Linked DNA regions of Homo sapiens. The protein of the gene in region 4 interacts with the protein of the main gene of each other region in a pairwise test. Each region holds a gene or a part of one and is shown on either strand. Other genes may lie near its edges. The genes, in order: GPATCH2L, ACAP1, LHX5 and SETDB1.

Region 1 (8,079 bases), on a different chromosome or scaffold from region 4:
CATCTTAAAAGTATTACATGTTACCCTACATTTATTATTCTCCAGTGATCCAAAAGTCTTTATAAATACATCATAGACACTGTTCACCATATATGGTATTTTAATAAGTACTATACCTCCTGTAACTACTGAAGTATATAGGAGTAAAAATCCTTTTTTAGAAAATTCAACAGTAGCCAATTTTTAACAGGCCAACACACCAAGCTTCCTAGAGAGCTACGTGATTTGATTATAGTTCCAACAGCCTTCATCCTGGGACATTACCAAATCCTCACTGGTAAAATGTAAATATCTGCTGACTAAATATAAATACATCAAGAGAATTTTGTGACTTGCAAAAATTGTTACTCTGTACTTTGTCCCTCAAACATCATCTCATGAAATAAAAATAGAAATTTGTATAAAATTGATTCCTAAATTCAGGGTTCTCAAGATTATAGTGTAAAAGCTTACCCATAACACCACAAAGAGTTCAGAAACGAACCATTTCCAAAAAATTGGAAAACGGCAATTCACTCTTCATTTAACTTGAGTACATTCACAATGCTTACCTACCATGGCACCTGGGAAAGCATACCAACACACATCTGAGTAACTGTTGTGTTGAGAGAACACAAGTCACGGGCGTGAATGCCAAGAACATCAAGGCTGTTCTTCAAACACATTTGTGTCTATATTCATCTATGTGTGTGGACCGTGCTAAACATCAGGCTACACATTTCAGCAGAACTGGCTGTAGAAAAATTACTCTGAGGTCAGAGTCCGGGCGGTAGTGGAGTTAAATGAGAAGTTTTCATATACTATATTCTTCATGTTCTGCATTTCTTATAGCTATGCCTCCTGGTCACAGACAGACATGGTAGGGGGGCCAAGGGAAAAGATGGGTGAAAAATGAGCTATTTGTTACAGCAGAAAAATTATTAACTTAAAGTGCCGTAATGTTTAAATTTACAGTTTATTACTGTGTAAATTACAAGCAGTACTTTGTGTAATTAGCAGCTCACTGGCAGGGAGCTGTGAATGAAACTCATTATTTATGATTACAATTTAGAAAAGCAGAAGAGAGATGGGGGAGGGGGAAGAAGGGGGGCAGAGCGGTGACCTCTTCTAGAAATGATAAATATCCCTTTAAGGTGATGAAGATGAATTAAACAAGTAAATATTATCCTATTCATTTGAAATCATTAAAGGCACATCCAACAGGCCCTCACTCCCTTCCAGGCAAGCTAAAGGGAAACCTTCAAGATAAAGTGACTTGTTTCCATGGAAGTGGATGGCTCTTATTTTATAAGAGCTGAAAGAAAGTAACACAGGTGGCAGGGGGAACATTATCTGTCAAGCCTAAACAATAAAAGTAAAACCTCTCCTTCTTCCACCCCATGTACTGCTATTCTGCTAGCTATCCCTGTTAACAATAAGCTCCCAAAACAGAAAAAGCAGCGTTTTGTCTGTAAAATGAGTAATTTGAAAGGTATCAGTTTTCCAATAATCAAATGTCTTCTAATTCAAGATTTGAACTTGAGGCCGGGCACGGTGGCTCATGCCTGTAATCCCAGAACTTTGGGAGGCCGAGGCGGGTGGATCACCTGAGGTCAGGGGTTTGAGACCAGCCTAGCCAACATGGTAAAACCCCATCTGTACTAAAAATACAAAAAAATTAGCCAGGCATGGTGGGGCGCCTGTAATCCCAGCTACTTGGGAGGCTGAGGCAGGAGAATTGCTTGAACCTGGAAGGCAGGAAGTTACAGTGAGCCGAGATCGCACCATTGCATTCCAGCCTAGGTCACAGAGCGAGATTCCATCTCAAAAAAAAAAAAAAGATTTGAACTTGAATTTAAAGATAAAAAGAAATAAGAATCTTGGGCTCGTCTGGAAATAAACAGTCTCATTTCTTTTGCATGCTTAAAACTTCAGAAAACTGTTCCCTGGTCAGACTATAAAACAGTATCCCCTTAAGGGAAGCCAGACTGTGGCACATATTGTGCCACCTAGCAGGCATTCTAAATGCTTACCAAGTGAACAAACAAATTAATGCTCTCAATGCCTCTCCCTTCCTTATTCTTTGCCCACCACCATCTTCTCTGACTGAGGATGAGCCCTGTCTTAATTTATTCCTCAATCTCAAAGTAGAGTAAAAAATAAAATTCAATAAAAATGTAAAAAGATAAAAGTAGACCTGGGTTCAAATCTCTATTCTACCATTCCTATCTGGGTAACATCAGACATTCCTTAACTTCTTCGAACCTAAGTTTTCCTCATCTGCTGAAGGTGCTTGCCCTTGTAGGTTGCTGGAAGGATTAAATGAGCTGAGTCCCTAGTACCATCCCTGGCAAAGGCAGAACTGAATAAACAGCAGATAGTTCTCCCTCATGGCCAAGGAGGGGCTCTTGAAACTCAGTAACAGTTTTGTTTTTTTTTTTTAATGAATTCTAGGATGAAAGACCAAAATTAGGAAAGAACAAAGATGCATTCATGAATTCAAGAGGAGTCATAAAGAAGCCAAGAGTATTTTAACTTACACAATAATAACATAACATTAATCAAAAGTTACAGAAGACACAGCTCAGGCTTGTAGGTTTACAGGCAATAGACACTGTAATGACAGTGTTTTTTTTTTTTGTCAGTACTTCTATATGAATTACGTTTCATCTTTTATTTGTATATCCATTCACATTCTACATAATGTTCACTCTTGTAAACTCCCAACACATTCCAGTTGGCTCCATTAACTTCAGGGAGTTCTGTAGCACCTCTGATTGTTAATAGGATACACAACTCCCATAGGGAATATTATCTCCCCACTGAGCCAAGCTAACTGTGAGAGGTATCACCTTCCCAACCAGCCTTCTTCGCCCCTTTCTGAGGCATCGAGCTGCAGCTCCAGGTAGACGATTCAAGCGAGTATGGTACCCTAAAAAAAGAAGGAAGGCCTCAGATACCGAATGCAGAAAATCCATATGCAATCCTATGTTTCTAGTACACTGAAGGCTTTACCCCCAGGATCTTAATAGATTGACCTTTAAACTAGCATCACAGAGCTATTTGCCAAGGATTTATTATTCCCAGGTCTTTGTCACTAGCAGTATGATCACAGGCATGCCATTTACCTTTGACCTAGGCATCCTCCATCTATAAAAGAGGGATAATCACTCAGTCCTACCTTACTGGGCTGTTTTGAAGACCCAATGAAATAGCAAGCAGAAGGGACTTTATAAACTGAAAACACCACACAAACATAAGGTACTATTAATAATTTTTAATTTAAAATTAAATGTTAGTTTGTACGTCAAAAACATTCTAATTCATGACATAATGGGGAAAATAGCACGTGTCGGATAACCCAATTTTTCTCACTGCTGCATGTGTTCTACACAAGGAAAGAACAACTGGAGGAAACCACACCAAAATGTTATTAATGAGATTGTCTCTGGATATGAGATTATAGGCCATTTTAAGTTTCTTCTCACTATTCTTGCTTGTTTGTATATATTTTAAGTGGTCCATTAGAAACTTTTAGAAATGTTCATCAAAATGTTCAATAAAGCAATGTGTGCCTCAGCTAGTCTTTACCAAGCACCAACTGCTGGTTCGCCATGACAAAAATTCACCATGACAAACAAAAATTCACCATGACAAAATCCTACATAATACAAGTTTACATCTCGTAGTGTGATTCTGATCACCCACAGATGTTCAACAAACTCTTGGCAACTGATTAACTGGTTGATTATGGGTTACTGGGAACCCTAGAATCATAAATTTATAGTGCTAAAAGAAATGGTTTTGTCCAATGTCACATATCGTAAGTGATGACCCTGTCATCCCAGGAAAATGCAGTGACTATCACAGAGCTTGGTAGACAGTATCAGAGTATTAGCACCACATTTCCATCTCTCTGTCCTAGGTTCTTTCCACCCACTTTGCTACATCATAATTGAAGAAAAAGCAAAGGGAAAAGGAAACATATTTGTGTTAAAGTCCCAATAGGGTCATTAAAATAAAACTACTTAAATTATTTTAAAAGCATCCGTTTTAAAAACACCATTATATGTGAATACTCTTACTGAAAATAAGAATATGTATGTGAATGTTCTTATTGAAATCTGTTCTCTTCCAAAATCCGATACTCAATAACCTCTTAGTTTCACATCAGGATAAGCAGCTGTCACTAAATCTGGCACAAACGGCAATGGCAAGCTGAAGGAATCTCCTGATAATATATATGTCCCAGGAGTTTCCATGGATTAGTTTAGGAAGGAATGGAGAGAACCTTAAGCTTTGAGACTTACTTTGACTCCTCTAGAAAATCCTTGAGCTAGCTCCAAAATTCAGATAGTTAATGTGTGATTGAAGGCATGAGTATGCTTGCTAGGGGGTGATTGCTCTGCCCAAGGAGAACCATAAAAGCATTAAGTTCTTGGTCTCCTCAGAACTCACCTCTTTGAGCTGGCCGAGAAGGTAAAAGGAATGTGGAATCTGAAAATTTATCCAATCCAGAATCCATTCTTTCTACTTCAGAACAATGATCAGGAGCCCACTTGGGCAGAAGATTAGGGACAGTGAATCCTGGGACACATTCTCCTTCATAGAACCAATCACTCTGTTCGTCATCACCTAAAGTAAAGACATCATATCATAAGCTAGAATTTTAAACAAGGTCTGAGAAAAACAAATGGGAGGGATGATTTCTTAGTGCCATAGTTTTGATCATCCTTTTTTTTTTTTTTCCTTTTTGAGACAGAGTCTTGCTCTGTCACCCAGGCTGGAATGCAGTGGCGTAATCACATGTTCAGGCAATCCTCCCATCTCAGCCTCCCAAGTGGCTGGAACCACAGGCTCATGCCACTATGCCTGGCTATTTTTTTATTTTTTTGGGGATGGATTCTTGTTCTGTTGCCTAGGCTGGAGTGCAGTGGCGTGATCTTGGTTCACTGTAACCTCCGCCTCCCCTCCCGGGTTCAAGCAATTCTCTCTGACTCAGCCTCCTGAGTAGCTGGCATTACAAGCGCCCGCCACCATGCCTGGCTAATTTTTGTATTTTTTTAGTAGAGACGGGGTTTTGCCATGTTGGCCACGCTGGTCTTGGACTCCTGACCTCAACTGATCCACCCGCCTCGGCCTCCCAAAGTGCTGGGATTACAGGCGTGAGCCACCGCGCCCAGTCTTTTTTTTTTTTTTTAATTCTCTGTAGAAACTGGGTCTCCTTATGTTGCCCAGGCTGCTCTTGAACTCCTGGGCTCAAGCAATCCTCCCACCCACCTCAGCCTCTCAAAGTGCTGGAATTACAGGCTGATTATACTTTTAAATAAATCAAGGCATTGTTCTGGTCCTTCTTGATTCATTTTACAATGAAAACTGGAACACCAACCTGGTTTCACATAAATGTCATACTGTGTTAGACTGGACCGCTTTAATAGCTAAAAATAAATAAATAAAGCTACCACTCACTAAACCCTTACAACCTACCAGGATCCATGCTAAAAATCTGTAAATATGTCATCTCTTCCAAGCCCTACACTAACTCCAACTTACAAACAAGGCAACTAAAGCCTAGAGAAGTCAAGGTCAATTTAGTAAACAATGAAGCCAGGATCTGAACCCAAAGCCTGACTAACTCAAAAGCCTGAGATCTTTATTACAAAAACAAACTGCCTCCCCTATACCATTCTCAGTGGTATAAACTTGGAGGTTCAAAACCCATAAATGTTTCTCAATTCAAAGCTAGCTATACCTGAGGGATTTCTTGCTATATTTGCCTTTATCATAAAAGGTGAATAAAGAATATATGTCCATACTTCATTTATCGTTGGTATCTCATTAATGGGACAGAAATCATCTTGACACTAGAAATCCAAGCTACTGCGGAAAAAAAAAATAACCACAGCAACAAATAACATAATCCCCTAAGGCTTTTCAATAAGTTATACCATTTTCCCAAGGCCATTTGTTAATTAACAGCAAAGTCACAACCAGATCCATATATCCAGACTGTTGGTAGTACAAACTTCTTTCTACTGGCTATAGTGATAGTATCTCAGTTTCCACTAGAGTTTATTCCTGCCAACAAAGAATAGATAATTGTATGTCTGCCACCACATACCCCTTGCAAAATAGCAAAATTGAAGGAAATTATTACAAGAATATCTAAAGAGTTCATAATGTAGTCAGTCTCTAATGTACACTGGATTCCAGACAAGTTGCTCAGAAATGTCAATCCCATGAAGTATGAGATTCATGGGTCATTAACACGCAGGATAATAACTCTTAAATCACTGTGGAGATCTCCAAAATGGGCAATGAAAACTGCATTCTGGTGAAAAGCAGGAGATATTACAACTAAGAAAGTTACTCAAAGTGTTCCCTTATAAAAACACACCACAAACAGCTGTCTCTCTTACAGTAGTTCTCAACTTTGAGCATGCATCTGAAGCAGCAGGAGGGCTTGTTAAAACATGGACTGCTGAGCCCTTACTCCAGAGTTTCTGATTCTAGTCTGGGCAAGACCAAAAATGTGTATTTCTAACAAGTTCCCTCATGATGCCAAGCTGGCCTGGGGACCACGTTTTGAGAACCGCTACTCTAAAAGCATCTCACGAAACCAGATACATAGATGAACTGAATACAGGCATTAGTGTATAATAACTAGTTTCTCTGTACTTCAATATATTAATTCTTTTCTTATTCATAAGCATTCCTTAGGCCATTTATTGAAATAGTATATTTAATTAGGCCATGTTTTCTGACGACAAATGGCAAACTATAATGGAATTTTTTTGGTTCTCAAGCAGTCATTCAAGATTTTTAATAATACAAAAAGGGACTCCCTGAACTAGAAGGAACGTTGTGAGACCACATAGACCAGCAGTCTTCAATCAGGGTTCACTAAGATGCCTGATAGAGGAGCTCCTTAAAAGAGCGCTGCCAGGGAATAAGCAAGAAGCTAGGTGGATCGGGCTCCTGACCTCTGGCTCCTCTAGAATTTTGCTTTAAACCAAATAGGCTTAGTTGTTTTACAATCTGAGAATCTATGTTCGATTTTGTTTGGGGGAAAAAAAGGAGAGTTTTCCCCTTAATTGGATTATAAATAATTATTTATTAAACATTTACTATATGCCAGGAACATGCTAGGTACTGTGGTTGCACATAATAAGTCCTGCCTTGAAAAGCCTCAAGGGAAAAGACTCGTACCTACAAACAATAACATAATCTAGTGAGTAGTAAAAGAAACAGTAAGTATAATACAAGGAGCCACAGAGAACAAAGGAGAAAGGGCTATTGGCCAGAACCCCCTCAGCAAACACATGGCACATTTAAATGGGGTCATTGCAGAGATGTAATGAAGTGACTATTCACAAAGGTGGAGACAGTACTAACAAGGAACCCCACAAGGGGATAGTGAAGCACATCAGGTGGAGCCAGCACAGCAGGAGGCCCTTACCATTCCTAGACTTGGAGTGGCAAGGGAAAGAATGGTTATCAGAACCCAAAGAACTGTGGTTATAAAAGAAGGCTGCCAAACAAGAGTGGTGGCCCTCAGCAGAGGAACACAACCACTGCCAACCAGCAATCCAACAGAAAAGGTGTCAGGGAAAGCAATAATCTAATGTGGTAGACTGCATTAGCATTTCCAAGTACTCTCTATAGCAGAATCATCCATCCATGACGTTTGCTCTTTGCCATTGGATTCCACAGTACCTTCCCTTTTAGGAAGAGCACACTTACTCATCCTACTGACTCTGGGCTTGGTCATATGACTTGCTTTACGTAGTAGAAAATTAACAGATATGATTCAAGCAAAGGCTTTAAATATGTACTTGTGGTCTAGCCTGGTCACCTGGCATTTACATCCTCTGCCATAGGAAGTCCATGCCGCCTATCATCATTGCTCCTCCACCCTAGGTCCCAAAATACAATACACTGAGTAGATGTAAACCTAACTTGAAGCCTGTAGACCAGTGGAGCCCAGGCAAGATCAGTGGAACCACAGACAACTCACAGCCCCATAGCAAGAAATGAGTATGGTAAACTGTGAGAAGCCACTAAAATTTGGGGGCTGTTAAGCAGCATTACCACAATAAA
Region 2 (6,528 bases), on a different chromosome or scaffold from region 4:
ATAACTATATGAAATCTGGGTTGTCCAAGATAGGAATAGCATCCTTTAGATGTTCCAATCTGCACAATTGTCCACCCTTCTCTGGAATGTCTCGTGGAACAGTCAGCCCAGGTGTCTGTCCTCTCAGTAAGATCCTCATGGGCAAAAAGCACAGCCTCTCTTCCGTCCCTCATCCTAAAGCTGCCTATGTCTGTAATGATTTCCTTCTCTTACAGACGCTGGTTCACCATTCAGAGCAACCAACTGGTTTACCAGAAGAAGTACAAGGTGAGTGGACCTGGGTCCTGGATGCCTGGGCCCCAGGGAGACTCAGCTCTTGCCTGCAGCTGGACATCTGGCCCCTTATCACCTTATCCTGCCAGGACCCTGTGACTGTGGTGGTGGATGACCTTCGTCTCTGCACAGTGAAACTCTGCCCTGACTCAGAAAGGCGGTTCTGCTTTGAGGTGGTGTCCACCAGCAAGTGAGTGCAATCCCCAGGGGTGATACTCTAATATATCTAAACAACTGCCAATCTGAAAGGCAGGGCCCACCACAATGGAGGCCCCCCATGCAGCTCCAGACTTTAATTTAATTCTTTGGCGGCTGGACTGGGGGGCCATTGTGGAAGAGGGTACAGGGTGATGGGGGATATTTAGGAGAATATTACCAACTGGTACAGAAGTCTTTCAATGCAACTGGAACTGGTTGAATACTGGCTGAATGTCAGTCTGCCCATGCTGCCACTTTGCTTCCCAGGCCTCAGACCCCTCTGCCATCTCCCTCACCCTCCTACCTAGGTCCTGCCTCCTCCAGGCTGACTCAGAGCGCCTCCTGCAGCTGTGGGTCAGTGCTGTGCAGAGCAGCATTGCTTCTGCCTTCAGTCAGGCTCGCCTTGATGACAGCCCCCGGGGTCCAGGCCAGGTACCTTAACCTGGGGGTGCGGAGCCAGGCTGCCTGTGGAGATGGGGCACCCTTTACCCTAGGCCCCTTGGCCACCCTTTCTTCCCCTCTCTCCCCCAGGGCTCAGGACACCTGGCCATAGGCTCTGCTGCCACCCTGGGCTCTGGTGGAATGGCCAGGGGAAGGGAGCCTGGGGGAGTCGGGCACGTGGTGGCCCAGGTCCAGAGTGTGGATGGCAATGCCCAGTGCTGCGACTGCCGGGAGCCAGCCCCGGAGTGGGCCAGCATCAACCTTGGTGTCACCCTCTGCATTCAGTGTTCCGGCATCCACAGGTTACTCCACAAGGCCCATGCGGGAGCCCCACTCCTTCGGGCCACAGTGCGGCTCCAATACAGAGCGCATCACACCGGCCCCTCTTCCTTCCCTGTCCTGGCTTCCTCTCTTAGCTTCTGGCTTTGTCACTGGGTACCAGGCCTGGGCCCAAGCCTCTGGGGTGCCAGTTGGACCCAGGCGGGCCTAGCCCCTCTGTGTCCTAGTCTGGCCAGAATTGGGGGATACCCAGAATTTGTTGGCTTGGTTGGAAGAAGTGTGGGGTCAAGGCTGCTGAGGGTGGGGGAGCCAGTGAAGACTAGGCAGAGAAACGGTCATGAGGCCTTAGCAAGTATCTAAGGCCCTCGCCCCCCACCTCAGTGTGGTGGAAGGGAGGTGACATGGGAGAGGTTGTCCAGGCCAAAGTGTCACAAGTGTCACTAGAGAAGGGAGGTGGCTGGAGTGATGAGGGCCTTGAAATGAAACCTAAGGAAGAAGGAATGGTGACGAGGCAGAGTCCTGCCAGGGCCAGGTCAAGGCTACATGGCGGTTACATGGCCGCAGCTGCCCTGCCTCCTGGGCCAGCACCTCTGCACGGGCCCCCATGCCAGCCTTGCCTCCCAGTGTCTTCAGGAGCAGCAGCAGCTCCCCAGGCCACTGCCCCCCTGCACAGGGCCTGACCCTCCCCCTCTGGCCCTCCAGGAGCCTTGGTGTTCACTTCTCCAAAGTCCGGTCTCTGACCCTTGACTCATGGGAGCCAGAACTAGTGAAGGTAACTTAGCGTATTGTGAAGATTGGGGGCAAGAACTTGGGGTGGGGCAAGGACATGGCGGTGCAGGGGCGTGATCCCTGAGGAGTCACTCACCCCCACCTTCCCTGTCTCTGCCTCTGCCTGGGCCTCCTGAAGCTCATGTGTGAGCTGGGAAATGTCATCATCAACCAGATCTATGAGGCCCGCGTGGAGGCCATGGCAGTGAAGAAACCAGGGCCCAGCTGCTCCCGGTGAGCTTGGGGTTTAGCCTCCCAGGGGAATGGGGGACCCCTGGAGCAGAAGAGGGAAGACTGCGTGCTTCTCCCCTCCCACAGGCAGGAGAAGGAGGCCTGGATTCACGCTAAATACGTGGAGAAGAAGTTCCTGACCAAGCTGCCTGAGATTCGAGGGCGAAGAGGTGGCCGGGGGCGCCCAAGGGGGCAGCCTCCTGTGCCCCCAAAGCCTTCCATCAGGCCCCGGCCAGGGAGCTTGAGATCCAAGCCAGGTATAGGGTTGGTTGGGCATTCATTGAGCATCTGCTGTGTGCTCGGCATCGTGCCAGGTAGCGCCGGGAGGCACAGAGTGTGAAGCCCAGGCCTTCCGCTGGACAATGTCGGAGGGACCGGACTGCCGTTTCAGGGGTTACGGTGGAGTGTGACATTAAGAATGAGAAGGAATGTGGGGCTGGGCGTGGGCAGGGAGGGTAAGGGGTGCCAACAGCACAAGAAAAGGAGAGAGAGAGGGGGTGGGTTTGGCTGGAGCGTCAGGGGTTGAGAGCTGAGGCCAAGTGTGGTTGGACCAGATGAGGTGATGATGCCGTCTCTCCCCCACACCCTAGGGACTCGTACACATGCATACGCATACTTACACATACCCACACTTGCATCACTCTATTCCCTCCACAGTCCCAAGCTCCCCATCATTTAGAAGAGACCTGTCCCATTATAGCATTGGGACACTGCTGAGGGTTTTCTTCCCAGACTCGGAGCTGCTTCCCCCTAACAGAACCAAATCCCCCGAACAGAGCCCCCCTCTGAGGACCTGGGAAGCCTGCACCCTGGGGCCCTACTGTTTCGAGCGTCTGGGCATCCTCCATCTCTTCCCACCATGGCTGATGCCCTTGCCCATGGAGCTGATGTCAACTGGGTCAATGGGGGCCAAGATAATGCCACACCGCTGATCCAGGCCACAGCTGCTGTAAGAGCCCTGCTGACCTCTCCACCCCACCCTAGGGCTCTGACACCTACTCCTGACTCTGGGCCCTGCCCTTACCTCCTTTCCCCACCACCTGTTCCCTAGGGCTTCCACCCATAGGGAGAGATCAACAATAGAGACTGGTTGCTAAGAGTGTGTGATTTGGAGGCAGAGAACCTGAGTTTGAACCCAGGCTCTCACCTCTTACAGGAGACTTTTTTTTTTTTTTTTGAGACAGTCTCGCTCTGTCCCCCAGGCTGGAGTGCAATGGTGCGATCTCGGCTCACTGCAAGCTCCGCCTCCCGGGTTCACACCATTCTCCTGCCTCAGCTGCCTGAGTAGCTGGGACTACAGGCGCCAGCCAGCATGCCCGGCTAATTTTTTGTATTGTTAGTAGAGATAGGGTTTCACCGTGTTAGCCAGGATGGTCTGGATCTCCTGACCTTGTGATCCACCCGCCTCGGCCTCCCAAAGTGCTGGGATTACTGGCGTGAGCCACTGTGCCCGGCCTACAGGAGACTTTTAACAAGTTATTAACCTCTCAGCCTCATCTGTAAAATAGTAACATACCTCAAAAGCTTGTACTATGGATTTATATATGAATACATGCAAAGAGCTAGAGCCAAGCCTAGCTTGGTTACAGTTAGCTGTAACCCCTTCCACACTCCTGATTACCACACTCCACCCTCCCATTCTCTGAACTGGCGCCACCCTAAGACATCTTGAAATCCACCACTAGGGATGCCACCCTCAACCCCCCTTCTCGACTTCTCCATGCAGAATTCTCTTCTGGCCTGTGAGTTTCTCCTCCAGAACGGGGCGAACGTGAACCAAGCGGACAGTGCGGGCCGGGGCCCGCTGCACCACGCAACCATTCTTGGCCACACGGGGTAGGGATGATGGCATGGGGAGGAAGGCTGGGAGAAGTTGGGCGGCCGGCTGACCCTGGCTCTTCTCTCCAGGCTCGCCTGCCTGTTCCTGAAACGGGGAGCTGATCTGGGGGCTCGAGACTCTGAAGGCAGGGACCCTCTGACCATCGCCATGGAAACAGCCAACGCTGACATCGTCACCCTGTAAGAATGCCTGAAGGGGCGGGGCTGGCGCTGGGACTCCCCCCACCCCCGCCCACCCACGTTCGGGCGGGCGGGCGGGGCTGACGCCGAAACAGAAGCCTGTGCTGTGGGGCCTCGGAAAGGGGCTGGGCCAGCGCCGGGGCCAGGCTCGAGAAAGGCTGCGCGAAGTGTGCACTGGGACGTGGAGTAGAAGGCAGGCGGGAGGGCGGGCAGGGTGCAAGGATGCTTGGCCCACCCTGAGAGGCGTAATTCGCCCATCAACATTGCTGTCAGGCATCTTTTTAGCACTAGACGTGACCCCGGGGGTGGGGGCAGATGAACGGAACGCAACCCAGCTCAAAGGATGGGAAGTTGTGGGGGAGGTGAGGATAGTCTTTTTTTTTTTTTTTGAGACGGAGTCTCACTCTGTCGCCCAGGCTAGAGTGCAGGGGCGCGATCTCGGCTCACTGCAACCCCCGCCTCCCGGGTTCAAGCGATTCTCCTGTCTCAGCCTCCCCTGAGTAGCTGGGACTACAGGCGTGCGCCACCACCCCCGGCTAATTTTTTGTATTTTTAGTAGAGACGGGGTTTCACCATGTTGGCCAGGACGGTCTCGATCTCCTGACCTCGTGATCCGCCTGCCTCGGCCTCCCAAAGTGTTGGGATTACAGGCGTGAGCCACCGCGCCCGGCCAAAGATAGTGTCGTTCATTTCTTAATTCCCTCCTCTTCAGGCTACGACTGGCAAAGATGAGGGAGGCTGAAGCGGCCCAGGGGCAGGCAGGTAAAGAATACACCCACCCCACCCCCCAGGCCCAACACCTGAACTCTGGGCTTCTGGTCCACGGTGACCTCTCTCCCTAGTGCCCAGCTGCATTCATTCCGTTATTTAACAAATGCGTATTGGGCGCATGCGACGTGCCAGGCCCTGGCAAGGCATAGGTGCTGGCGCAGTGCCCGCGGCGCGCACGTTCCCACCCAGGCTCGGAGCGCGAGGTCCCCAGGTGGGCCCCAACCGCCGGATCCTGCCCTTCTGCACTGGGGCCCAGCCGCCTCCCGGCCTTTCCTCCCTCCCCCAGGAGATGAGACGTATCTTGACATCTTCCGCGACTTCTCCCTCATGGCGTCAGACGACCCGGAGAAGCTGAGCCGTCGCAGTCATGACCTCCACACGCTGTGACCCGAGGCCCACGGGGCCCGCGCCTGCCTCCCTTCCCCGCCACCGGGCCCTCTGCCATTAAAGCCTCCGTGCTTCGCTCTTCCCTTCTGGTTCACTTCTTGGGCGCCACCTTCGGGCCCGTAGGGTGTTGGGCGCTGCGGCTCCCGAGGTGCGGGGAGCAGCTGGGGGTTTGCGAGCTCCAGTCCAGCAAGGTGCGACTCCGGGGAGCGAGGCGGCAGCTTCGGCCGCGGCCTGAGCGCAGGGCGCTGCGGGGCGGGGGCTCTCGGGCTGGGGCGACGTGGCCAGCCCAGTCCTGCCGAGGGGTGGGGCTGGCCCTGGGGCTCGCTGGCCCCGCGCCGCCGCGGAGAGAGCGCGCCCGGGCCACCCCGGCTGGAAGGCATCCCCGGAATGCGGCGGCTCAGCACCCGCCCCCTCGGGAATTCCCCGGGGGAGCCGCTGGGAGGGACTCGGCTCCCGGGCTGGGCCGGCCGGGCCTCGGGCTCTGAGCGGTGGGATTAGAGGCTCCAGCCCCGCCGACTTGCAGACGTGAGATCGGGCACACCTGAGCGGCGGCGGGGCGGTCGTGGCCACATCCGGGGCGACGTGCCTGAGTCACCCCGTCCCGCCAGCGTCTGCCAGTCCAGCCAGTCCGCCCAGTCTCTCGCGTCCGAGACTCGCCTCCAGCCTCCCACCTCCGCCCGGGCCGCGCGAGCCTCGCGGGGGCGGGGGCGGGGCGCCAAGGGGCGGGGCTGTCTCTTAAAGGGCCCCGGGCCGCTGCCCTTAGGCCACTTCCTGGGGGCGGAGAGGACCTCAGCGGCTGCGGCGACACCCAGGGAAGGCGGCGCGGCCGGGTCCCGAAACTCCTGGCTGTTTCCATCAGAGCCCTCGGACACTCCCAGCCCGGGCTGAGCACGCATCGTCGCTCCCCGGCGGATACAAGGGGGCTCCGCCATCCGCTCCCGTCAGTTCGGCCTCCATCTCCTGGGACCCGCGCCGGCAGCCAGGCCAGGCCTCTGAGTGGCCCCAGAGCCCTGGCTGGACTCGTCCACGGCGGCAGCGATCTGCCCGGGGTCTCGGAGGCCATCCCTTCAGAGTCGGCCCTGTGCTCGCCACCGTCACCTGCTGGTTGGATTCCGGAAACCCACTGTCTGAAGACCACAGAGGGGTGTCGCTGACCACCCC
Region 3 (9,058 bases), on a different chromosome or scaffold from region 4:
GCACTCACCAGCGCACACACTCACTCCAGAGAGACCTCTGAGCTGGCCGGCACTCACCAGCGCACACACTCACTTGGAGGCTGGATCTCAGCCACTGCCCTCTCCACCTGCTCCAACCACCAAGATCCAGGGCCTGTCCCCTGAGGGGTAGTAGGCCCAGTGGACTTCCACTAGCTAGGGCCCCTGATGCTACAGCCCCAGAAGTCTGACTCAGAGTTGGCCCACCCCTGCCGGGTCCCACAGGAAGCCCCCTTAAAGTTCCAGCCCGGATATTGGACTGGGGTTTAGTTTAGACTCAGAGCCCTGCTTTCCTGTGCTGGGGGGTGAATGCAGAGGAAGATTGGGCAGGGAGAAAACTTGGTGGGAGATGCCATTGTTTAATTCCCACTTCCTGCAGCTCTCCAAAGGAAGGAAGGAAGGAAGAAGGGAGGGAGGGAGGGAAGGAAGAAAGGGAGGGAGGGAGGGAGGGAGGGAAGGAAGGAAGGAAGAAAGGAAGGAAGGAAGGAAGAAGGGAGGGAGGGAGGGAAGGAAGAAAGGGAGGGAGGGAGGAAGGGAGGGAGGGAAGGAAGGAAGGATGTAAGGAAGGAAGGAAGGGAGGGAGGGAGGGAGGGAGGGAAGGAAGGAAGAAACGAAAAGGAAAAGAAAGGGAAGGGGGAGGGAGGGAGGGAAGGAGGAGAGAAGAGAGGGAGGAGGAATTCCCTGCCTTTTTGATTAAACGTCCCGGGTCGGGCCTGCCCAGTTAACGAGACCGTTAATTAAGCCGAGCACGATTCAACTGACAGGAAGGCCCTGCGCCCCGCAGAGATGTTCTGGAAACCAAGCAATCCACGGCCTAGCGCCAGTGGGGCACACCAGCCACGACGCCCCCGCCTCCCAGGGTTCCACCCAGGCCAGGACACTCTCCCCGCCTGGGCTCCGGGCCGCTCTCAGACGGCCACCCCCAAGGGTTCCCCAGAAAATTCACCACCACCCCCCACCCACCCCACTCCCACCCCCGCCATCCCTCTCGCATCCCTGCCCGGATGTCTAGGCCTGAGCACCCATTGCACCCCGCCGGCGTCCTCTCTGGCCCGCCTGGGAGCGCGCGGTCCCGAGGTTCTCGGGCAAACCCGAACTGCGGAGGGCAGAGGCTGGGCTCGCTGGGTCTCGCCGGAGCGCCACACCAGCCGCTCTCCTCCGGCCTCCAGACAGCGGGGCTCAGCCTTCACGCCCGCTCCTACTCGGGGGCCCGATTCCTTCCGGCGGCGGGCGGTGCTCTGCGGCGCTGCGGGACGCTGAGTGTGTGTGCGAGGCGCGGCCTATATTTACACCCCAAACAAAATAATTACACTTTTGTCGGAGGGAGAAAGCCAGTGATTAGGCGTAGGCTCTTTGCGGCAAAACAGTTTCTCAGTGGTACACCAGTATAATTTTTCACGGCTGGCTGAAATCAAAGAGGGGAGGTAATGAATCCGGCGAGCAATTTAAATTTACAATTTGTAACGCCGCCGCCGCCGCGCAGACCCGGCCGAGAGCGCAGCTCGGAGGCGCTCGCTGCGTTTGTTTAATGTTAAAGCCGCGCTGGCTCTTGGGGGTGGGGTGGGGGAAGTATGCGTGTTGGGGTGGGAGCGGTAATGATCGAAGTCGGGAGAGGACGGGCTGGGTCGCACAAGATGCCACCAAGAGAAGTGGGCAAAGCGCGCGCCTCTCCGGTCCCCCCAGCCACCTGGGCCCCCAGAGCGCGCGTTTCCCAATAAAGCTGCCACTCCCGGCCGTTCGAAGGAGAGGATGCTTTAAGAGGAGCCAGGAGAGACACTGGCTGCCAGAGAAGACCCCCTTTCCTGCTTGGCTGCAGAATCTCCCAGGCCGGAGGCTTTCCGGTGAGGAATAGGGAGGTGCAACTGAAACGACCTCTTCAACCCGCGGGTGGGTCAGCTCCAAACCTCTGGAAGCGCCCTCATTCCGGCCGCTGCCCGGTGTCCCGGGCTGGAGAACTCAAGAGAGGTATGCCCCACGCCCCAGCTCAGCGCTCCCCAAAACTCCCACCCCAGGCTAGTGTGCGCCTCCTCGCCAGTAATTAATTACCGAACTCAAGGGGGAATATGCAAACCGCATATTACTAACTCTACAGGGCTTAAGTGATTGGAAACAGATTATTATCTTGTTTGTCTTTTGTCTGTTTTACTTATCCCGCCGCCGTCTGTCGAGTTGTAATGTTGATACTCTTTACTCTAGGAGGAAGATTTTTATATAGTAAATTCCATCAACATCTTGTATAAGTGACATTGCGTCTCCATGCATTACCCTGTTAAGACACAAGCGGTTTATTAGTTACATATAGGAGGGGATTTCGCTGCCTGGTCGCCATCTGTTAGCGCTGTTAGGTCGGGATGAGTCTAATAGCTGGTCTGCTGGCATTTTCCGATGCTGTGCACCGGGGAAGGTGGTGGGCTAGAGAAGGCCGGGCGGGTTCTGGGCAGCTTGGCTGAGCCCAGGTCCAGGGAGTTCTCGAACTGGGGCTGAGCTGTACTGAGGATGAGGCCCCCAACGCAACTCTAGGGGACTGCAACAAGGGCAGGATTGGTGAGTTCCCCTACAAGAGATGGAAGATCAGACCAGGGCTTCTGGAAACAGAGTCCTCATCTCCTGCAACCAAACATCCAGCCCCAGGTGACTGACGCTCATCCCTACTCAGGGCTGCTCTCATCTTCTTCCCTCTTCCTACGACCTCCCTGGCCTGGCCACACGGTTGTTAGAGCCTGGCTATGCATTGAAGCTCTCTGGGAGATGAGGACTAGTGGATCTGAGATTCAGATAGAGCTGGGTACACAGGCCCCCAGCCACCACCAATGGGTGGGCAAAGCCTGGGCTGGAAACACACACCAGACAGGGCACTTTGCATATTTTGTGGGGTTTGGGGGAGAATGGGCTCAGTGTGCCTAGTCTGGAGCAGAGAAGAAAGTGGTTGGATGGAGGTTCTGAATGATCATGAAGCACGTGGTGGGGGTGCAAGTCTTCCCCCCACACCCCAAAATCTGCACGATGCAAAATAAGGAGCATTCATCTCAGCTTTGAGTCGGATGCTGGATTTGGAAGCTCCAGCAGAGAGGCCAGGGGAGGAGAACAAAAAAAAAGAGAGAGAGAGAAATGGAGAAAGAAAACAAGGGAGAACCAAGAGAAAATGAAACAGAAAGAGAACAGATTCTGAGCATAAGAGAAAAACGGAGACAGAAAGGAAAAGAGATATGGTGAGAACTCGGGAGAGACAGAAAAAGCCTAGTGAGACAAAGACGGAGAAGGCAGTACAGTTCACCTCTGCCGGGAGCCTGAGCACCTCTCTCCTCTTCGGGTTCTTATTTCTTTCCAGCTCTGCCCCTGCCAGAGCTCAAGGATCCTTTAAGCCCAGGCGGGCAGGGCCAAGTGCTGCCAGAAACTGCAGTTCCATTTGAAGTCTCTCATGGCCGAGCCTAGGAGGCCAAGTGAGATTCATCCTGCCTGTTCCTGGTTGAGCTGGGCTCTAACCAGCGTTACTACTATGCTCTGTAGATGCCTGTCCCCTGACAAGCTAGAGGGTCAGGTAACAGCACCAATAAGCAGAAGCTGCCCGGGTTAGGGATTCCTTTTCCAGCGGGCTGGCTGGTGAGTCAATGCTCCACTCTGTAACCAGCACTCACCAATTCCCTGTCCCTAGCAAGATCACCTCCCCTAGATACTGTGGGGGACAGTGCTAGGCCTGAGAGGAAGGGGGACAAGTGGGCATCCCTGAGCCCCAACACAGGCATCCACAAATCCTGCTCCCTCAACCTCCGAATCCACAAAGGTAAGCGCAGCTAGGAGTACACACACAAACACAAATACAAACATAACCCCCTCACACACACATACACACACACACACAAAAGCCTACAGGAGTTGCATAAACAAAAAACTACTGTTTGCACAAATACACACATTTGCAGGCACACACACACAGCGACTGGCACACAAACATAGCTCTTCAGAATTCTGCACTCACAAACACAACCAAGCCAGCTCAGTCTCATACACACAGGGTCTCAAGCATGCACGCCCTCACCTACACACAAACACACACATTCAGATTTTTCAAAGTACACCTTCACATCAATGCTTGCAAACACAGACACAAACACTCTTACGTGAATGCACACGTACACATGAAAACACCCTCACATTTATGCATCCTCAAATAAGCAAACACACATAGGCACAGACCAACAAAAATAAAAGTGCACACAGTGATAAACACAAACATTAGCAGGACCATACACAATTACAAACACACGAATCTGCACACACGAAAACGCACACGCAGAAATTTACTCACAGGATTGATGGTACTAACACAATAAACAGATGCAAAAATGGAATTCTCAAACAGCGAGTATACACTAACAAGCTCAGGAAACACACCCAAACAAACATTCACAGCCAAGTGCTGGCACAAACCCCTCCAGCTCCAGCCCTTGGTCCCAGGCCCTACTCCCTCAGCCCCCTTTCCAGAAGCGAAAGGCAAATCCTGGTTGCCCATTCCCGGCTTCCCCAACTAGGATCCCTGGTGGCCACGCTGGCCCCAGGGGAAAGGAGGCCTGGTCCCTTCTCCTACTCAGACCCACACACCCCCTCCTCACGCACACCTGCCAACATCCCCCCTCCCCCTTAACACACACACACTCTCTCTCCTCACACTCTGGGCGCCCTGCCGAGCACGGAACATACGTGCGCCGCTTCTCCTGCGCCCAATGAGGGGACGAACTTGCACACCCAGCCCGCACGGCGTGAATACAAACAGCGCTCTCATAGTCGCTGGTGTCCCCCGCCTCAGCCGTACGACCCACTCACCACAGTGCCCCATAGGCTGACCTGGAATCTGGAAGGTGCAGCGAGGAAAGGAGAGACGTGGTGAGTGCCACCTCCGAGCTGTCTGCGGGAAGACCCGTCCACCCTGAATCTCCCCCTGTCCACATCTCCCTCAGAGCCCCGTGAGCAGCGCACTCAGGCCTGAAACTCTGGAGTTCGGGACCAGGCCAAATGGCACCCCTCCTGCTCCCCCGCCTCCCCACCCTGGGCCTGGGCCTGGGCTCGGCGGCCGGGCGGGGAAAACTACCCAGGCCGCGCGGTCTCCACTAGCTCTCTCCATGAGAAAGGCCCGGCTGGGCCCCAGCCCCGTGTATGACAAAAAGAAGCCGGGGCCGGCTCCAGGAGCCGGGAGAACCGCGCTGACGCAGCTTCAGGGCGCAGAGGGGGCGCGGGGGTGGGGGAATCCAATCTGGGCTGGCTGGGCTGGAGAAGGGGAGCGAAGTGTGGGGCGTGGGGCAACTTCTGCAAGTTCCAGGGATGGCGAAGGGGGCAGGGGTACCTCCCGGACTAGGCCTTGGAACCCGTGACCCCCAAATATTTGTGAGGAGAAAGAGAGAGGAAGAGAGACGCAATTTTCGTTTCGCGCTGCCCCCGCCCCGTCAGCCCCAAACTGGAAGGTAAATACTTACTTAGCCTCCGAACCAGGTACAAGCTAATACTCAACAATACTGATGCCTTGTTTTTTTTGCTCTGTCCGGACAGCAACGCTGTAGCCAATTTAGATATGCTATAAATTTAAGAGGTTGCCATGGCCACGGTGCGCCCATTGGCCGCTGGGCCCCCTACGTGCAGCGCCACGTCACCAAATCTGAATAAGGATGCGCGAATTACGCGGCGACCAGACAAAGATGAGGATCCGGACCGCTTGAAAGTGGGGGAAAGTGCCGGCGCCTCCGCCACCGGGGAAAGCCGCTCCGCAGCGCCGAGGCCAGCAGCCACCCGAGATACCTGGGGAAGCCCGGAACAGGCGCCGGGGCGTGCGGCCCGTGGCATGAGGTTGTGAACGCCACCCGCCCCCCACCACCCCACTCCGGGCAGCCCAGCGCCAGGCCAGAGATTGCCCAAGGACTGGACCGGCTGAGTCTTGGTCCGGACCAGACTCGCCCTGCAGCTGCTGAGACAAGAGGCGAAGGGCAGCGGAGGGCCCGGCAGGCCCGAGGGCCAGGGGCCCAAAGGGAGGGCAAGGCGGCCGAAGCCGCCGGGGCGCGGGGCTATGATGGTGCACTGCGCCGGTTGCGAGCGGCCCATCCTCGACCGCTTTCTGCTGAACGTGCTGGACCGCGCGTGGCACATCAAATGTGTTCAGTGCTGCGAGTGCAAAACCAACCTCTCGGAGAAGTGCTTCTCGCGCGAGGGCAAGCTCTACTGCAAAAATGACTTTTTCAGGTAAGAGGCCGCGCCGCTCTGCTGCCTGCGCGCCCACCCTGCGCGCGCTCCACTGGGGCGCTGGGGAAGGGGATACCCCCATCCCCATCCCAGCCTCCCCGGATCACAAGCTTAGATGGGGAGCGGGCAGCACTTTGCTCTCCTCCTGTCCTTGGTCCAGGAAAGGTCCCGAGCCCAGGCGGAGGAAGAAGGACGCTGCTTCGCTGCCTCACGTTGGCTCGAGGCCGGCTCAGAGCGCTGGCGGGGCAGAGGGAGGAAGCCCTGACAAACTTGCTATCCACTCCTCTCCGCCCCTTCCAAGCAGCTGCAACCCCAAGACAGAAGCTTCAAGCCCCGTCCCGAGAGAGAGGAAGGATTTTTGCATGAGTTAGAGACGCCTGAAGGCTTCTCGCTCCAGGCAGAATGTGTGAGCCCATCGGCCGCAATCCCAAACAGAAACTTCTCAGCTCCAGAGGGGGCCCAGCGAGGAAGGTCTCCCCTGGTGATGGGAGGAGAGAACCTCCCCCACCCACCTCCCAACCCCTTAAACATTTCCTCCCATGTTGAAAAGTAGAAACGAAATCGAGGCTGAGAATCAGGACCTCTGGGGTCTAGACTGGGCTGTGGCACCTCCCCAGCCCCCCTACCCCTGTGGGCCCTGTGGCTGGCCAGGGCAGATCACCTCTCTGGGCCTCAGTTTCCCCAGCCTGGAAGCCACTGGAGTTTGGGGCAGCTGAGCCCTACCTGTTTCCTCTGGGCACCCAGAGCCGGCTTTGTGAACAGGAATTCCCCGCGCTGAGGAATGGGGGCGTGAATCACGCCACAGAGAAAGGCAGCCTGCCGGCCCCAGCGACTCCGCACTGAGAATTTGAATGGGAGAAAATGTCAGCCGCTCCTTTACACGTGTTAACTCCCTGGACCCGGAGGCCCGATGCCCCTAATGTAGCAGTGCTTGCAAAGTGCCTAATGATTTTTGATAAGGTGCATATGGCCAATTACGCTGCCGGATAAGGCCAAAAGTGACTTATGGCTTCTAATGCCCTCACTACATCAATGTCACCCAAATTCGCCCTGTTTAGAGACATGGGTGTGAGTAGATGTGGGGTCCCTAGAGTCCTGGGTCCTCCCCCACCCCACCCCCAACCTGAGCCTCACCCATCTCCTATTTCGGGGGAGGCTGGCTTTCTCCCTGAGCTCAAAGAAGAAAGAAAAGGAATGAGATCAGGAACGCGGGAAAGCGGGGATTTGAGAGATTCCTGTCCTGGCCTTGCAGGATCTATGATTGTCCTCTATTCACATTCCCCTGCTGCCTGCCAGGCCAGAGGTTTAGGGGGGCTGAAACTCATCCCTGCTCTCTAGGGTCCATCACTATGAGGCCCTGCTGTCCACAGCTCCTGATTAGCTCCAGCGGGTCCCAGAGCGGTGGATTGGAAAGCCTCTCCATTGGTACTGGAAATCAGTGGAAGGTTCCCTCCTTTCTGCTTCCTCCTTCCAGCCTAGGAGAAGGGCTCCCCACCTCATGGCTAGGCTCAGCCAGCCAGGCAGATTGGCCCTAGCTAGGCAGCAGCAGACTAGAAAGGATCCAGGAGGCAGAGCCACCAAGTGGCCCAAACCCTCCCCGCCTGGCTTCAAATCATTCATGGACTCTGAGTTTGCCTGGAGCAGCCCAGGCAGGCCTGGCAGGGGTTGGGTTTGGGGGAGGACATCTTGGGGTGCTCTGGGCTCTCTTCTTGGCTGAAGGCTGCACCCACTGCTCACCCCTTCCCAGCTCAGGAGAGTCTGAAAAGCCCCAGTGGAGGCATGGCAGTCCCAGTCCCAAAAGCAGCTCAGGACATTTGTCCCACTTCTCCCACTCTGGCCAGAGCGCTCAGGATTGGGGTTCCGTTTGACAGATATGGAAATGGGGACTTCACCGAAGCCAGGTCGGGTGGGAAGAGGTCAGGGGCTGGGGAGGGCTGGATGCAGTCCCACCCCATAGTGACAGGCACATTGTGTCCACAGGCGCTTTGGCACGAAATGCGCCGGCTGCGCGCAAGGCATCTCGCCCAGCGACCTGGTGCGCAAGGCCCGGAGCAAAGTCTTTCACCTCAACTGTTTCACCTGCATGGTGTGTAACAAGCAGCTGTCCACCGGCGAGGAGCTCTACGTCATCGACGAGAACAAGTTCGTGTGCAAAGACGACTACCTGAGCTCATCCAGCCTCAAGGAGGGCAGCCTCAACTCAGGTAGGAAGCCTGGGCCCCTCACTAGCCTTAGGCCTTAGCACCCTCCCACCGTGCCCAGCCTGGCACTCCCTACTTGGCCCCCGGTGTGCTGTCTGTGCTGAGCTTGGAGCTCATCAGCCCCAGGCAGTTCTAGGGCAAGGCAAGGGGGTTAGAGGCTAGAGAAGAGAAGTGGCTTTGGAGCAGGTTTTACAGGGGATCTGAGACCTGCCAGCTCTGCCTCACCCTCCTCCAATTCAGGAGCCTTTTCCAAGTTGCCCTCCTCCCCTAATTTGGAAGCGCACAATTCCCCCTTATGTGTCACTTGAGCTCCAGGTAATTTCTTGATGCACTGGAAGGACATTAATTGAGGTCTGGAGAGAGGAGGGAAGAGAGAGGAAGATCCAAGCCCCAAGGGAATCTGTGCCCTCCTTGTCCCCTCTCCTTGAAAGTGGGAGTTCTCCAGAGGGTACGCGTCCCCCTACCCTTACCCAGGTACTAGCTGAGACGCGCGGAGAGGGCTTAAGAGCGCCCCTCCAAAGGCCCAGCCCCGCCTGGAGAGAGTGGGCGGGCACCGGGTCCCTGGGGGAGGGGCTGTCGCAGGTTTGGGAGGGAATCCAGCGGGGCTGGCCGTA
Region 4 (8,079 bases):
GGGTGTAGTGGTGCCACCTTGCGTGCCTGTAGTCCCAGCTACTCGGGAGGCTGAGGCAGGAGAATCGCTGGAACCCAGGGAGGCGGAGGTTCCAGTGAGCCAAGATCGCACCACTGCACTCCAGCCTGGTGACAGAGTGAGACTCCATCTCAAAAAAAAAAAAAAAATTACCCCACTTTCCCTAATTACCATACTACCCTCTTTACCTTCCCGTTCTCTACCGAATCTATGTCATAACTCTTGAGAATAACTTTGCTTCTTCTATAGGAACCTTGAGTCAGATGTCTGGAGAACTAAGCAAAGATGGTGACCTGATAGTCAGCATGCGAATTCTGGGCAAGAAGAGAACTAAGACTTGGCACAAAGGCACCCTTATTGCCATCCAGACAGTTGGTATGTGCAAACTTGGAGGAACCACTCCTGAAAGGCAACCTGCACCCTCCACTGCTGATTGTTTCTTTTCCCCATAACCTTCCCATTTGTCTCTCACATAGCAGCCTGGATTTATACAGAAACTGGCAGTGTTTAAAAAGATTTATCTTTCCCTTTTACTCAGGGCCAGGGAAGAAATACAAGGTGAAATTTGACAACAAAGGAAAGAGTCTACTGTCGGGGAACCATATTGCCTATGATTACCACCCTCCTGCTGACAAGCTGTATGTGGGCAGTCGGGTGGTCGCCAAATACAAAGATGGGAATCAGGTCTGGCTCTATGCTGGCATTGTAGCTGAGACACCAAACGTCAAAAACAAGCTCAGGTACCTGGACAGAGGACTGTAAAGGGGTAGAGGCTGGGAGCACAGCACCTGCCCTGTTCGTGCCATAGACCAGATACCACAATTAGCTTTTGTCTTCTTAGTCCCCAGTGGACTGAAACCCTTACTCTTTCTTTACCACAGGAGTCATGTGGGTGATTCTTTCTTCCTCTTTCTCCTCCTGTTTTTTTTCCTTTTCTTTCCTCAAAGAGAAAACTAGGAAGAGAATAATGAGGATTGATTAATGGTCAGGGGAATACAATTCACACAGAAGAAAGAAATGGAGACTAAATGGTTATTGGCAGCATAGGAATCTGATAGAGGAAAAAGAATATATGTTTTTTGGCCGGGCCCAGTGTCTCATCCCTGTAATCTTAGCACTTTGGGAGGCCAAGGCAAGTGAATCACCTGAGGTCAGGAGTTCGAGACCAGCTTGGCCAACTGGTGAAACCCTGTCTCTACTAAAAATACAAAAATTAGCTGGGTGTGGTGGCGCATGCCTGTAATCCCAGCTACTTGGGAGGCTGAGGCAGGAGAATTCCTTGAACCTGGGAGGCAGTGGTTGCCATGAGCCGAGATTGCACCACTGCACCCCAGCCTGGGCGACAGAAGGAGACTCCGTCTCAAAAATATTTATATGTATATGTGTTTTTTTAAAAGTAGGGAGGTATTGGTTAAATTAAGGGAGAACTCCTAACTCTCAAGTTGAGAAGAAAGAAAAACAGGAAGAAAGTAGTGGACTGGATTGTCTTCCCTGGAGTGCATCGTGTTGTGATCCAGAGAAGTAGAAGCTATGATAAAATAATTTCTGTGGATCATGTTAAATATCATAACCCCCAGATCTTTCTGCTGTCACTCTTCTTTTATAGGTTTCTCATTTTCTTTGATGATGGCTATGCTTCCTATGTCACACAGTCGGAACTGTATCCCATTTGCCGGCCACGTGAGTGTTTCTCCCTTATTCCTTAGCTCAGTTTTCTCCTCTACCTTGTATTTCTTCTTAGGACATCCAGTTGAAAAGCCCTAGTGTTTTTGGTATTTCAGTCTCAAAGAGCATAAGTTTGGTTGATGTCTTTTGCTCCCAAAGGTCAGTTTGCTCCCAAAAGAGATACAGTTTTATTGTTCATCTCCAGGACTGGGTCTTTGTAGACAAAGAGTGAGACACTAGAAGATCATGAATGGCCTTGAGTAGACTGCTCACGTTATAGATGTGCTTCAATTTCATTTCTAAGTGAGTTACGTTGGAAAAGGTGTTACTTCTTTCCTAGTGTCATACTGCACCTAACATTTGTATAAATGTGTAGTCTGCATAATGCTTTCCACAGAAGCTGTGTTAGATGGAACCTCATAGTGTCCACTATATTTGTTACCCTGGCTTGGGAGCAGACTCCTATGGAAACAATCATTTTTAACTGCAGAAGAATCAACTAACACTTTTGTTTACACATAACATGACAGTAAACACATTCTGAGTCTCTTAAAAACCTGATAGAGAATGAGAAGGAAGGACTAATTTTTTTCATTTCATGATGCCACCTGATCTTTTTAAATTTACCACTAGACTGATCAACAAGTGAGCAAGAATTTCCACTTGAATTTTCCAGAGGAGAAACATCCATTTGTGTAAAATAAGTGAATCACCTATATTGTACATTTCTTATTTAGTATTTACTTGATTTGTAAGTATGTACAGTTTGTACATTAGGTTTATTACTTAGGTGGTCTTGGCTTTGCTTCCCTTGAGGTTCTGATTTTACTTTTTCTCTCCTTTTCAACTTAAAAAGTATCAAATGTCTCCTGGCCAAGTCTTTTCCCTATCAAGACATGCCCTACCTGCCCTCTCAGTTCTACTTCTTCCTTGAAACAGTGAAAAAGACTTGGGAGGACATAGAAGACATCTCCTGCCGTGACTTCATAGAGGAGTATGTCACTGCCTACCCCAACCGCCCCATGGTACTGCTCAAGAGTGGCCAGCTTATCAAGACTGAGTGGGAAGGCACGTGGTGGAAGTCCCGAGTTGAGGAGGTGGATGGCAGCCTAGTCAGGATCCTCTTCCTGGTACTGTTCTTCTCTACAATTTTGGAGGCAGAGGTTGGTGGGGGGGGAACTTAAGAAGCAGTAATGAGGATGGTTTTATAGCTATTCCATAGCCTTCCTCTTTCTTATCCTCGTATGTGTTCTCACTGTTTTTGGTCAAATTTTACTTTGCCCTTTTTGTTGTTCCTCTGCAGGTCATTGTTGAAAATAAATTATCTGAATTATAATACGAATCTGCATGGTTTTGATTTATTTATTTTTTTTCTTTAGGAGTATTCACATTGTGTGTAGGTACAGAAAGGGCAGCCAATTCCATTTTTCCAGGGTTAAGGTTTTAGTAGGATAGTGGGACGAAGAAGAGGGATCAAGGAGTCCTGATTATCTTTCAAGGCTCAGTTTAACTCTTAGGTATTTTGTACTCATCCTTTTCTCCCTTCTCTCTCCCTTCTTAGAATCATATTTCTTATTTTTAAAAGTTTTAAAAACATTTTTTAATACTGCTGCTTGCAGAACAAGGCTACCTGATAGGCAGTGTGCCCAGAGTAGCCAGAAGAAATTAGAAGTTATATTTCTTCTTGGTGTTACCTCAGCCCGTTACTTCTAAGGCCTTATGATCCTTATCATGCTTTTTGTTTGGTGTTTTGTTTTGTTTTCAGACGGAGTTTCACTCTTGTTGCCCAGGCTAGAGTGCAATGGCACGATCTCGGCTCACTGCATCTTCCGCCTCCTGGGTTCAAGTGATTCTCCTGCCTCAGCCTCTCGGGTAGCTGGGACTGGCTAATTTTTTGTATTTTTAGTAGAGACGGGGTTTCACCATGTTGGCAGGCTGGTCCCGAACTCCTGACCTCAAGTGATCCACCTGCCTTGTCCTCCCAAAGTGCTGGGATTACAGGCGTGAGCCACCACGCCTGGCCTGTTTTGTTTTGTTTTGTTTTGTTTTGTTTTGTTTTTTGAGACAGTCTCACTCTGCCACCCAGGCTGGAGTGCAGTGGTGCAATCACAGCTCACTGCAGCCTCAACCTCCAGGGTTCAAGTGGTCCTCCCACATCAGCCTCCCAAGTAGCTGTGACTACAAGTGCATGCCACCACACCTGGCTGATTTTTGTATTTTTAGTAGAGACGGGTTTCGCCATGTTGCCCAGGCTGGTCTCGAACTCCTGAGCTCAAGCAGTCTGTCTGCCTCATCCTTTCGACATACCAGGATTATAGGTGTGAGCTATTGTGCCCAGCTGTCATACCTCTTATACTCAGTATAGATATCTGTTGCTCCTGTAATTCCTTAAACAAGGAGTATATATTTTTCATTGTTGTGTTCCTGATACCCATCATGGATCCTGGCACATACTTTATTAAGTAGATAAGGAATTTTTTTTTGGGGGGGATGGAGTTTCGCTCCTGTTGCCCAGGCTGGAGTACGATGGTGCAGTCTCGGCTCACCACAACCTCCGCCTCCCTGGTTCAAGCAATTCTCCTGCCTCAGCCTCCCGAGTAACTGGGATTACAGGCATGCGCCACCACACCCGGCTAATTTTGTATTTTTAGTAGAGACGGGGTTTCTCCATGTTGGTCAGGCTGGTCTTGAACTCCCAACCTCGGGTGATCCACCTGCCTCAGCCTCCCAAAGTGCTGGGATTACAAGCTACAGGCGTGAGCCACTGTGCTTAGCTTAGACTAAGGAATTTAAGGCTCATCAGGGAGGATTCCCAGAGGTGACACATGGTATATATCCTCTACACAGGACAGGATAGATTCTAGCCTTTAAGCTATTTCCCTTCATTCTTTTCTCTCAATTCCCCAGGATGACAAAAGATGTGAGTGGATCTATCGAGGCTCTACACGGCTGGAGCCCATGTTCAGCATGAAAACATCCTCAGCCTCTGCACTGGAGAAGAAGCAAGGACAGCTCAGGACACGTCCAAATATGGGTATGTCCTGAAAGATTCCTGGAGGAAGGAAGAAACAGGCCAACCAGCAAAGGAGATTATATACAATGGCTATCCTTTGATTAGCATGGTTACACTGTATACTCATTGGAAACAGGATATGTGCCCTGAGTTGTTTCCAATCATGGTGATCAATTTGTGCTGCTGCTTCCACATGCTGTGGCTCTAATTTGTTCTAAACAACCACATAAAAATCTGAAACAGTTGGCTTTAGGTTAGGGTGATAGTAGTTACCCTCTGTTATCCACATGAGAATTGTCAGTTTTGTGTGTTATCTATGGTTAGTTTTTTCTTTTTCTTTTTTTTTTAAATAGACCCGGGGCTTGATATGTTACCCAGGCTGGTCTTGAACTCCTGGGCTCAAGCTGTCTACCTGCCTCGGCTGCCCAAAGTGCTAGGATTACAAGTATGAGCTACCACATCCAGCGTATAGTCAGTTTTCTTTAAAACCCAGACCTGGCCAGGCACAGTGGCTGACATCTATAATCCCAACACTTTAGGAAGCTGAGACAGGTAGGTGGTTTGCTTGAGCTGAGGAATTCAAGACCAGCCTGGGCAACATGGTGAAACCCTGTTTCTACAAAAAAACACAAAAATTAGCTGGGTACAGTGGCATTAAGCTGTAGTCCAGGCTACTCAAGAAGTTGAGGTGGGAGGATCAATTGAAGCCAGGAGGTCGAGGTTGCAGTGAGCTAGATCGTGCCACTGCACTCCAGCCTGGGTGACAGAACGAGACCCTGTCTCAGAAACAAACAAAAAACAGATTTGGTTTTCTTTTTTAATATTACTGTCATACTTTCTGGTTGATTTTTCCTGCCAAAATTAGTTGGTTAAAGAATATATTTCTGAAAATATTTCCCCAAAGTATAACATAATTAGGTAAATCATCTGAGATAGGAAGATATAAAGTCTTATCTAAGGCCCAGCATGGTGGCTCGTGTCTGTAGTCTCAGCACTTTGGGAGGCTGAGGTGGGAGTATCACTTGAGGCCAGGAGTTGGAGATCAGTCTGGGCAACATAGAAAGACTCTTATCTCTTAAAAAAAAAAAATGCTGAGTGTGGTGGTGTGCACCTGTAGCCTTAGCTACTCTGGAGGCTGAGGCAGGAGGATTGCTTGAAGCCCAGGATTTCAAGGTTACAATGAGCTAAGGTCACACCGCTGCACTTCAGCCTGAGTAACAAAGTGGAACACTGTCTATAAAAAGAAAAAAAAGAGGCTACTCTGCCGACAGAGTAGCAATTTTTTTTTTTTTTTTTTGAGATGGAGTCTGGTTCTTTTGCCCAGGCTGGAGTGCAGTGGCACCATCTCAGCTCACTGCAACCTCCGCCTCCCGGGTTCCAGCAATTCTCCTGCCTCAGCCTTCCGAGTAACTGGGGTTACAGGCGACTGCTACCATGCCAGGCTAATTTTTGTATTGTTAGTAGAGACGGGATTTCTCCATGTTGGCCAGGCTGGTCTTGAACTCCTGACCTCAGGTGATCTGCCCGCCTCAGCCTCCCAAAGTGCTGGGATTAAAGGCATGAGCCACCGCGCCTGGCCGTTATTCTTTTATTCCTTTACTTTGTGAATAAACTTGCTTTCACTTTAATAAAAGAAAAAGTATTATCTAAGTCAAAAAACAATGTATGCCAGCGTCCATGCCAGTCAATAATGGGAACTGAGAGTCTAAGCACTTACTCAAAATGTGTCCATTGCTGCTTTTTTTTTTTGAGACGAAGTCTTGTTCTGTTGCCCAGGCTGGAGTACAGTGATGTGATCTCGGCTCACTGCAACCTCCACCTCCTGGTTTCAAGTGATTGTCCTGCGCCTTCCGAGCAGCTGGAATTACAGATGTGCACCACCATGCCCATCTAATTTTTGTATTTTTAGTAGAGACGGGGTTTCACCATGTTGGCCAGGCTGGTCTCAAACTCATGACCTCAAGCAACCTGCCCACTTCGGCCTCCCAAACTGCTGGGATTACAGGCAAGAGCCACTGCGCCCAGCCATTGCTTCCTTTTTATATTGTATAAGTTAAGGATCAGATGTGTGACTGAATACAAGCGTCATAGCTATCATCTTCTCAGTGCTCAATTTCCTTTTTCCTATAGGTGCTGTGAGGAGCAAAGGCCCTGTTGTCCAGTACACACAGGATCTGACCGGTACTGGAACCCAGTTCAAGCCAGTGGAACCCCCACAGCCTACAGCTCCACCTGCCCCACCTTTCCCACCTGCTCCACCTCTATCCCCCCAAGCAGGTGACAGTGAGTGAGTGTTATTCTTTCTTTTTCTTCAGTTTCTTTCATATTATATTTTCCACATCCCTTACTATATGCCCTCTTCTCTAATCTCCTAGAAGCTTGGAAAGCCAGCTTGCCCAGTCACGGAAGCAGGTAGCCAAAAAGAGCACGTCCTTTCGACCAGGATCTGTGGGCTCTGGTCATTCCTCCCCTACATCTCCTGCACTCAGTGAAAATGTCTCTGGTGGGAAACCTGGGATCAACCAGACATATAGGTGAGAAAATCTGAGGCTCTCTGTAGGCAGGATAGCAATGAGTGGTCACTGTGTAGGGGAAGGTTCCTTGGCTGTAAGCGAAGGGCTTAGTTTAAGCTTATGATAGTGAGGAGTTTGGACTTGAAAAGGAAGCTTTACCCATAGAAGTTCCTAAGAAATAGAAAGTAAGAATAATTGAATTGGAAGCTGGGTGCTTGGAAATATGGTATCATCTGAAAGCCATTTGTTAAAACTTCTTGTTGAACATGGTGCCATCATTGCTAAAATAGAAAGGAAACACCACAGCCTCTTTCCTTGGAGTTAGTAAGGACATTTTTAGAACACGCAGCAGACCAAAAAAACATTGGTAGAAGACTGGATTCTACTTCCATAATTCACAGGCAAATACATTTTAGGAAAAGGTATACTGTTGAAATAGAGATGTTAGGCCGGGCGCGGTGGCTCATGCCTGTAATCCCAGCACTTTGGGAGGCCGAGGCGGGTGGATCACCTGAGGTCGGGAGTTCGAGACCAGCCTGGCCAACATGGAGAAACCCTGTCTCTACTAAAAAATACAAAATTAGCCAGGCGTGGTGGCGCATGCCTGTAATCCCAGCTACTCAGGACGCTGAGGCAGGAGAATCGCTTGAACCCAGGAGGCAGAGGTTGTGGTGAGCCAAGATCGTGCCATTGTACTCCAGCCTAGGCAAAAAGAGCGAAACTTGTCTCAAAAAAAAAAAGAGAAATAGAGATGTTATCAGTCAGTGAAGAGTAACCAGGGAGTTTCATTGTCCAGGTTTGGTAGGGCAAGGGAAGATCTTTCTTGAATCATCTTTAGCTTCAGGAGCACAGCTGTTTGAAAGATGAGAG

What was found.
Region 1: the proteins of SETDB1 (region 4) and GPATCH2L interact in binary tests that used the Homo sapiens proteins (3 or more experiments, as listed by UniProt).
Region 2: the proteins of SETDB1 (region 4) and ACAP1 interact in binary tests that used the Homo sapiens proteins (3 or more experiments, as listed by UniProt).
Region 3: the proteins of SETDB1 (region 4) and LHX5 interact in binary tests that used the Homo sapiens proteins (3 or more experiments, as listed by UniProt).

Annotation. Positions count from the first base shown.
Region 1 is NC_000014.9:76,168,378-76,176,456, reverse strand, and holds part of GPATCH2L (G patch domain-containing protein 2-like), read right to left. Parts: exon of another isoform or gene 5,259-8,079; intron 4,615-5,258; coding exon 4,438-4,614; coding exon of another isoform or gene 4,427-4,437; exon of another isoform or gene 2,912-4,426; coding exon 2,832-2,911; exon of another isoform or gene 937-2,831; intron 1-936.
Region 2 is NC_000017.11:7,346,029-7,352,556, forward strand, and holds the end of ACAP1 (arf-GAP with coiled-coil, ANK repeat and PH domain-containing protein 1), read left to right. Parts: intron 1-215; coding exon 216-267; intron 268-362; coding exon 363-463; intron 464-779; coding exon 780-903; intron 904-1,002; coding exon 1,003-1,214; intron 1,215-1,893; coding exon 1,894-1,963; intron 1,964-2,098; coding exon 2,099-2,193; intron 2,194-2,277; coding exon 2,278-2,447; intron 2,448-2,966; coding exon 2,967-3,139; intron 3,140-3,916; coding exon 3,917-4,026; intron 4,027-4,098; coding exon 4,099-4,209; intron 4,210-4,921; coding exon 4,922-4,971; intron 4,972-5,266; coding exon 5,267-5,367; 3' UTR 5,368-5,449; downstream 5,450-6,528. UniProt on the Homo sapiens protein: GTPase-activating protein (GAP) for ADP ribosylation factor 6 (ARF6) required for clathrin-dependent export of proteins from recycling endosomes to trans-Golgi network and cell surface.
Region 3 is NC_000012.12:113,468,511-113,477,568, reverse strand, and holds the start of LHX5 (LIM/homeobox protein Lhx5), read left to right. Parts: upstream 1-5,697; 5' UTR 5,698-6,070; coding exon 6,071-6,243; intron 6,244-8,223; coding exon 8,224-8,447; intron 8,448-9,058. UniProt on the Homo sapiens protein: Plays an essential role in the regulation of neuronal differentiation and migration during development of the central nervous system.
Region 4 is NC_000001.11:150,942,296-150,950,374, forward strand, and holds part of SETDB1 (histone-lysine N-methyltransferase SETDB1), read left to right. Parts: intron 1-267; coding exon 268-393; intron 394-556; coding exon 557-758; intron 759-1,624; coding exon 1,625-1,698; intron 1,699-2,622; coding exon 2,623-2,813; coding exon of another isoform or gene 2,814-2,867; exon of another isoform or gene 2,868-3,025; intron 3,026-4,590; coding exon 4,591-4,717; intron 4,718-6,826; coding exon 6,827-6,983; intron 6,984-7,071; coding exon 7,072-7,230; intron 7,231-8,079. UniProt on the Homo sapiens protein: Histone methyltransferase that specifically trimethylates 'Lys-9' of histone H3. H3 'Lys-9' trimethylation represents a specific tag for epigenetic transcriptional repression by recruiting HP1 (CBX1, CBX3 and/or CBX5) proteins to methylated histones.